2 linked regions of the Homo sapiens genome follow. The protein of the gene in region 2 interacts with the protein of the main gene of each other region in a biochemical or structural test. Each region holds a gene or a part of one and is shown on either strand. Other genes may lie near its edges.

Region 1 (3,724 bases), on a different chromosome or scaffold from region 2:
TTGGCTCACTGCAACCTCCACCTCCCAGGTTCAAGCGATTCTCCTGTCTCAGCCTCCCTAGTAGCTGGGACTGCAGGCGCGTGCCGCCATGCCCAGCTAATTTTTTGTATTTTTAGTAGAGACGGGGTTTCATTGTGTTAGCCAGGATGGTCTCGATCTCCTGACCTTGTGATCCACCCGCCTCAGCCTCCCAAAGTGCTGGGATTATAGGTGTGAGCCACTGCGTCCAGCCTGTTTTTGTGTTTTAAATAGAGTTGAGGTCTCATTGTGTTGCCCAGGCTGGTCTTGAATTCCTAGCCTCAAGCGATCCTCCTGCCTTGGCCTCCCAAAGTGCAGGGATTACAGGCATGAACCACCACACACAGCCTAAAATATTGTTTTGTTTTTGTTTTTTTCGAGGCAGGGTCTCGCTCTGTTACCCAGGCTGGAGTGCAGTGGCATGATCTCGGCTCACTGCAACCTCTGCCTCCCAGGTTCAAGTGATTCTCCTGTCTCAGCGTCCCAAGAAGCTGGGATTACAGGCGCCCACCACCATGCCTGGCTAATTTTTGTATTTTTAGTAGAGATGTGGTTTCACCATATTGGCCAGGCTGGTCTTGAACTCCTGACCTCAAGCGATCCGTCTGCCTCGGCCTCCCAAAGTTCTGGGATTACAGGCGTGAGCCACTGCGCCCAGCCCATTATTATACTTTCTGACAAAATGTATATATGTATAGTCCTGACAGCCTGAGGTGGAAGAAAGGTAGTTAACTTAGATACAAATAACTGCTTGCCCATTTAGGAATCTAAGACTAAGCAATTAACATTCTCACATGTATCTCCCTGCACATGTGTACACATATCTGAGAAGTGCCTGGTTTGGTTAACTGTCTTCTGATCAGAATCCATTACTTACTAAGCCAGGCACAGTGTTGTGTACCTGTAGTCCCAGCTACTTGGGAGGCTGAGGTGGGGAGATCACTTGACCCCAGGAGTTCAAAGCCAGCCTGGACAACATTGGGGGACCCTATCTCAAAATAAAACAGAAGGAATCCATGACTTGCTAGAGTCAAGGTATCTTTCATATGCCTGCCTTCCATCTTGCGTATTCCTCCCGTGTCTCTCCATTAACTTAAATCCTACCTCTCTTTCAGGTCCTAGACATTTTTGCTGCAAAATAATCTTTGATCACTCCTGCCTACTGTGATCTCCCCTTCTTACCTTGAAATTTATGTGGCACTTGTCTTCTGTAGTTTCATCAAGCACATTTCATATGCTCATATGCTGTCTTGAACTGTAGACTTTTTATTTTTATTTTATTTTTTTTTGAGACACAGTTTCAACTTATGTCACCCAGGCTGGAGTGCAGTGGCGCAATCTCAGCTCACTGCAACCTTAGCCTCCTGAGCTCAAGTGATTCTCCAGCCTCAGCCTCCCAACTAGCTGGGACTAGACAAACGCCACCATGCCCAGCTAATTTTTGTATTTTCTGTAGAGATGGGGTTTCACCATGTTGCACAGCCTGGTCTTGAACTCCTGAGCTCAAGTGATCTGTCTGACTCAGCCTCCCAGAATGCTGGGATTACAGGTGTGAGCCACTGCACCTGTCCTTGAAATGTAGACTTTTTATTCCTATGTATTTTGTTGTTGTTGTTGTTGTTGTTGATATTGTTGTTTTTGGGACATAGTGTCACTCTGCTGCCCAGGCTGGAATGCAGTGGTACAATCACAACTCACTGCAGCTTTGACCTCTCAGGCTCTGGTGAGCCTTTCACCTCAGCCACCCAAGTACAGACAAGTGCCACCATGCCCAGCTAACTTTTTTTGTGTATTTTTTCGTAGAGAGCGTGTTTCACCATGTTGCCTAGGCTGGTCTCATACTCCTGGGCTCAAGCAATTTGCCCACCTTAGCCTCCCAAAATGCTAGGAGTACAGGCAGTGAGCCACTGCATTCAGCCAACCTTCATATTTTGATATTTTATATTATCTCCCCATTAAGATTGTAAACTTTTTTAGGGTAAGAACAATCTAATTGTTCTTTTTTTAGGCAAGAACAATCTAATTGTTTTGGATTTTTTAAGTTTTTTTAAATCCTGGATTCTAAGGATTAAATGATTGTTTTATTCTCTCTTTTGGTGAGGTGTCTCTTTTTTTTTTTTTTTTTTTTTTTTGAAATGAGGGTCTCACTCTGTCACCCAGGCTGGAGTGCAGTGACATGATCTCGGCTCACTAGAGGTGTCTTTTTTGATATTGAACAGTGACAGTGAGCTCATAAATGTTTAGGTGTTTTCTGTTTTGGGTTCTATTTATGACCCATAGGTGGCACCTATTGAGTGCTAGATAGCAAGCAACAGCATGTGGGCATCTGGCTGGCTCAGGCTATAGGTCCTTTACTTCCAGTGATGACTCAAGATTGAAGTATCATTAAACACTTAATTAACACAGTAACTTACATATTCCTCTAATATTTGCTTTGGCCAGTTAATTAAACCATAGATGTTCCTGTATATAGGCATTTACTAGAATTTTCATATTCTTTCTTGTAGGACCGGGTGACTTTTAGAAGAATCATAGTGAAAAATAATGCAAAGAAGAGGAAGATGTTTGAATCATTTATTGAGTCTGTGCCCCTCCTTAAATCACTAGAGGTAAAGTGGCTTGAATAAGAATCTGTTCATGGGGATCAGGAAAAGCTTTTAAAACTATTCTGTTGTTAGGTTTTCAAATCATACTATTCTAATCCTATTTCTGTGCTGCATAGCTATTGTGACTTTCAATTAAGGTCTTTTCCTTTTATTTGTGAATTTGTTGTTTCAGGTGTCAGAACGAATGAAGATTGTGGATGTAATAGGAGAGAAGATCTATAAGGATGGAGAACGCATAATCACTCAGGTGAGTGAGGGCTTTACGCAGCTCCTTTCCTGGAAGTCACCCCTGAAGAACTAGTACATCATTTATCTCAAAAACTTCTTGCCGGACGCAGTGGCTCACGCCTGTAATCCCAACACTTCGGGAGGCTGAGGCAGGTGGATCACTTGAGGCCAGGAGTTCAAGACCAGCCTGGCCAACATGGTAAAACTCCATCTCTACTAAAAATACAAAAATTAGCTGGGTGTGGTGGCCCATGCCTGTAATCCCAGCTACTTGGGAGGCTGAGGCGGGAGAATTGCTGGAACCCAGGAGGCAAAGGTTTCAGTGAGTCGAGATTGCGCCACTGCCTCCAGCCTGGGCAACAGAGCAAGACTCCATTTCAAAAAAAAACCAAAAAACCTTCTATGTTCTCCCACTGTTGGGAGCTCTTATTACCAGGTAATAGATCATACTTCAGAGGACTATTATGTAGTCCTCTGAAGCTTATTGACGTCCGTCTTACTGACACGTGCAGATCTCTTGCTTCCTCTCACCTTTCCTTGGCTTCTAGTGTTTGTTCTTTTGATGTCATTTTCTTTTGACCTTAAGTAAGTTTCATCCATTGCTATTAGAACCTGGGGAAGGTTAAAGAGTTCTGTCCTCTAACTTTCTATATTTGACACAAAGGCATCCTTTTGGCTAATCTAACACAAATCAGAGTTCACAGTCTTCAGTGATTAACCAAATTTGTAAGATGTAAAGATTACTAAACAGTGGGCTAGATCATTGTAATGAGTACTGTCTGATAATTTTCTTTGTCCGCTGTGTTTGTATTTTTAATTAAACATAAATAGTATTGGACTTTTCCAGGTATAAGCTTATCTGCCTATGGTTC
Region 2 (3,836 bases):
TCCCAGCACTTTGGGAGGCCAAGGTGGACGGATCACAAGGTCAGGAGTTTGAGACCAGCCTGGCCAATATGGTGAAACCCTGTCTCTACTAAAAATAAAAACCTAGCCGGGTGTGGTGGTGGGCGCCTGTAGTCCCAGCTACTCGGGAGGCTGAGGCAGGAGAATAGCTAGAACCCAGGAGGTGGAGGTTGCAGTGAGCCGAGATCGTGCCACTGCACTCCAGCCTGGGTGACAGAGTGAGACTCCATCTCGGGGGGAAAAAAAAATGCTTGCTAAGTAAAAGTTCATAGCTGCAGTCGTAGGCATTCAAAAATGTTGGTTGAACAAATGAACACATAAATGTCTCCAAAGTCCTAGTGCCATTTCTACCAGACCAGATAGCAGTATTATAAATTCTCTTTCTCCCTCTCTCCAGCACACACACACACACACACACGCACACACACACACACACCCCAGACACCAAACCACTTTTATAAATAAGTTTTGAAAAATTCCGTAGCTTTTCCAAATTATAGTTTTTAAATGGATGTTAAGCAATTACATAAAGTGACTAATCTTAATTTTAGTGGAATCTTACTAAGAAATGAATATAAATAATGTCCCTTATTGTTTAGCAATTTACCATAACCTTTTCTAGCTATATTAGAAGAAATTCATTTACATTTCAATATTCAGTAGCCTATAATAGATATTTTGTAGACATAGTTTAGCTTTTACTATGAACCTTTTTATTTATAAAATAAGAGATGTTTTTGTTTGAAAAAATTTTTGTTCCATTCTTGTCATATTTCAATCACTTGGATGTATCCTACCTTTTTCACTTCCTCTTTCCATGAGCTATCATTCAACTTTCAGTTTCACTGACAGGGCATCACGTTCCTTCCTCCACATTCTCTCTCTAAACACCATGTTTTGCTTCATTCCGACAAAGCCTAAGCTGGGTGCAGTGGGTCACCCCTATAATCTCGGCACTTTGGGAGGTTAAGGCAGGAGGATTGCTTGAGCCCAGGAGTTCAAGACCAGCCTGGGCAACATGGTGAAATCCCATCTCTACAAAAAAATTTTAACAATTAGCCAGGTGTGGTGGTGCACATCTGTAGTCCCAGGTGCTCAGGAGGTTGAGGCAGGAGGATCACTTGAGCTCAGGAGGTCAAGGCAGGCTGCCACTCCAGCCTGGACAACACAGCGAGATCTCGTCTCAAAAAAAAAAAAAGCCTGAAGGTTATGAATTAGTTTTAAGTCACAGGCACTGCACTATTGCTGCAATAAATGTTGATGAAGCTATCAAACTGCTGCATCTACTCGGAATGCTAAGTAAGCTCTGCCACATCTAAGTATGAAAAACTAGAATGCTTAAAACAGGAAGGGAAAACACTTTCTTAGCTGTGGAACAAAGTATCTGAAATATGCAAAGAACAGTTTTACACCATAACCAGCTTTGTCTATCACAGTGGAAACAGTAACTGAAAAGTCCTGCTATCAATAATCAATATACAGCTTGCATGGAGCACCATCCTTTTTTTTGTACACAATTGGAACTACTCTTCACACTGAAAATGTTTGTTAAACAAAAGTCATGTAATTACAAATTACTGAATATAATAGACAGTAGTTTTTTATAATTATTCAGCAAATAATGCCCATTATATAAAATACTGAATAACTTTAAAAAGTATACCTAATGCAAATTTACATGAGTAATAATTTTATATTAAATATACAACTGTCCTCTATTTAATTCTGTTCACTTAAATTACAATACTTCCTTTACGTGCCATGAATAATTATACTTGGAAAAAAATGAAGTCATTTAAAATGGAGTTAAAATAGTTTGGTTCAACACAAGGACAACCTATGTAGTGCCATCCTCGTCAAAACACTGCAGAGGGAGCTAGCCCAGCTCTGAAAATATTTACTTAATACATAATGCAGTAATGTCTCACATCTCCCAGGGTCATGCTTCTTGCAACATCAATACTGAGGAAATAGCTGAGGACCCAACAGTAAACCAAAACAACCAACAAGCAGCAGAAAAACTAAACTGCCCTAAAGCCCACTGGGCAGGCTACACTGGCCTCTGTTTTTGTTTTGTTTTGTTTTTTGAGACAGAGTCTTGCTCTGTCACCCAGGCTGGAGTACAGTGGCACAACCTCGGTTCACTGCAACCTCCACCTCCTGGGTTCAAGTGATTCTCCTGCCTCCACCTCCCCAGTAGCTGGGATTAGTACCTGCCACCACGCCTGGCTAATTTTTTTGTATTTTTTAGTAGAGACGGGGTTTTGCCATGTTGGCCAGGCTGGTCTCAAACTCCTGACCTCAGATGATCCACCCACCTCAACCTCCTAAAGTGCTTGGATTACAGGTGTGAGCCACTGCGCCCCACCTGTTTTGTTTTTTATACTTTTTTCTTTTTAGAGATGGGGTCTCACTACATTGCCCAGGCTGATCTAGAACCTCTGGGCTCAAGCGATCCTCCCACCTCAGCCTCCCAGTGTTGGGATTACAGGAGTGAGCCATCACACCCCGCCTAAGGTCTTTGTTGTTGTTGTTTTTTCTTTTTACATAGTATTCTGTCAACCTCAGTTCTGGGTTCCTTAGTCGTAGCAAATCTAAAACAGCAAATTAGGAAAAGAGGCAGATGAGGAGTAAGAGCATGCCCATAGCAATACGAACTAACAGCAAGGAAAGAATAAGCACAACAAAAACAGAAAGGAAATCTATAAAATGTCTAACAATATAATCCCAACTATATTATACACTCTGCACTGAAATAGCAATTACAATTCCAGGCCTACGCTAAAATAGGAAACCTAGTTATTCTGTGCCTCATTTTCCTGTTCTGGATAATGGTCATACACTATAACATGTGTTTAATATAATGTATTTGATAAGCCTTTATGTTTTTTAAAAAATGGCATTTGAGGCTGAGTGCAGTGGCTCATGCCTGTAATCCCAGCACTTTGGGAGGTCGAGGCAGGCAGATCACTTAACGGCAGGAGTTCGAGACCAGCCTGGCCAACATGGTGAAACCCCATCTCTACTAAAAATACAAAAATTAGCCAGGCGTGGTGGTAAATGCCTGTAATCCCAGCTACTTGGGAGGCTGAGGCAGGAGAATCGCTTGAACCTGGGAGGTGGAGGCTGCAGTGAGCCAAGATCCTGCCACTGCACTCCAGCCTGGGAGACAGGCTGTCTCAAAAAAAAAAAAAATGGCATTTGAATATTCTTTTCTGGTCATAAAAGAGATACATTGTATCAAGAATTTGGAAAATACTAAAAGTATAAAGAAAATTAAAATTGCCTATAAGCCACCACCCAGAGATAGCCACGATTTACATCTTGGTGCTTTTTTTCAGGTGTCTTCATATTTAAATATGTACATATACCTTTTCCTGGTAACTTTTTTCTTTTTAACCTGGCATTATTTGTGGGCATTTTCCACACTCAAAAAGTCTTTGTAGAATTATTTTACATATCATAATTTATTAACCCATTATTACAGATTTGGGGTAGTATAAAACATTTTATACAGTATACTATATATTATACTGCATACATGACAAACTGTTTAAAAAGTGATCATTTATAAGGTTTAGATACAGAAAGGGAATTTTCCAATGGAACTGTTTATCAATAAATTACCCCCAAAAAGATTTGTAAGTTGTGGTTTGCAAAACTAGATTATCAAATACAATACTTAAGTCCAGTGAACAAATGAGACATTTGCAGAATGAAGTCTCAGATAAACTTTGGAAAATGATCATTTAAAGTTGTTTCTGATGCCAGCAATATGGATTTCACATTAAGAGAATTCTAGATTAATGTTATTAAAT

What was found. The genes of interacting proteins can lie anywhere in the genome.
Region 1: the proteins of AKAP9 (region 2) and PRKAR2A interact in a test that uses a peptide from one of them, tested with the Homo sapiens proteins (one study listed by BioGRID).

The regions. Positions count from the first base shown.
Region 1 is NC_000003.12:48,764,151-48,767,874, reverse strand, and holds part of PRKAR2A (cAMP-dependent protein kinase type II-alpha regulatory subunit), read left to right. Parts: intron 1-2,525; coding exon 2,526-2,627; intron 2,628-2,796; coding exon 2,797-2,871; intron 2,872-3,724. UniProt on the Homo sapiens protein: Regulatory subunit of the cAMP-dependent protein kinases involved in cAMP signaling in cells. Type II regulatory chains mediate membrane association by binding to anchoring proteins, including the MAP2 kinase.
Region 2 is NC_000007.14:91,943,776-91,947,611, reverse strand, and holds part of AKAP9 (A-kinase anchor protein 9), read right to left. Parts: intron 1-3,836. UniProt on the Homo sapiens protein: Scaffolding protein that assembles several protein kinases and phosphatases on the centrosome and Golgi apparatus. Required to maintain the integrity of the Golgi apparatus. Required for microtubule nucleation at the cis-side of the Golgi apparatus.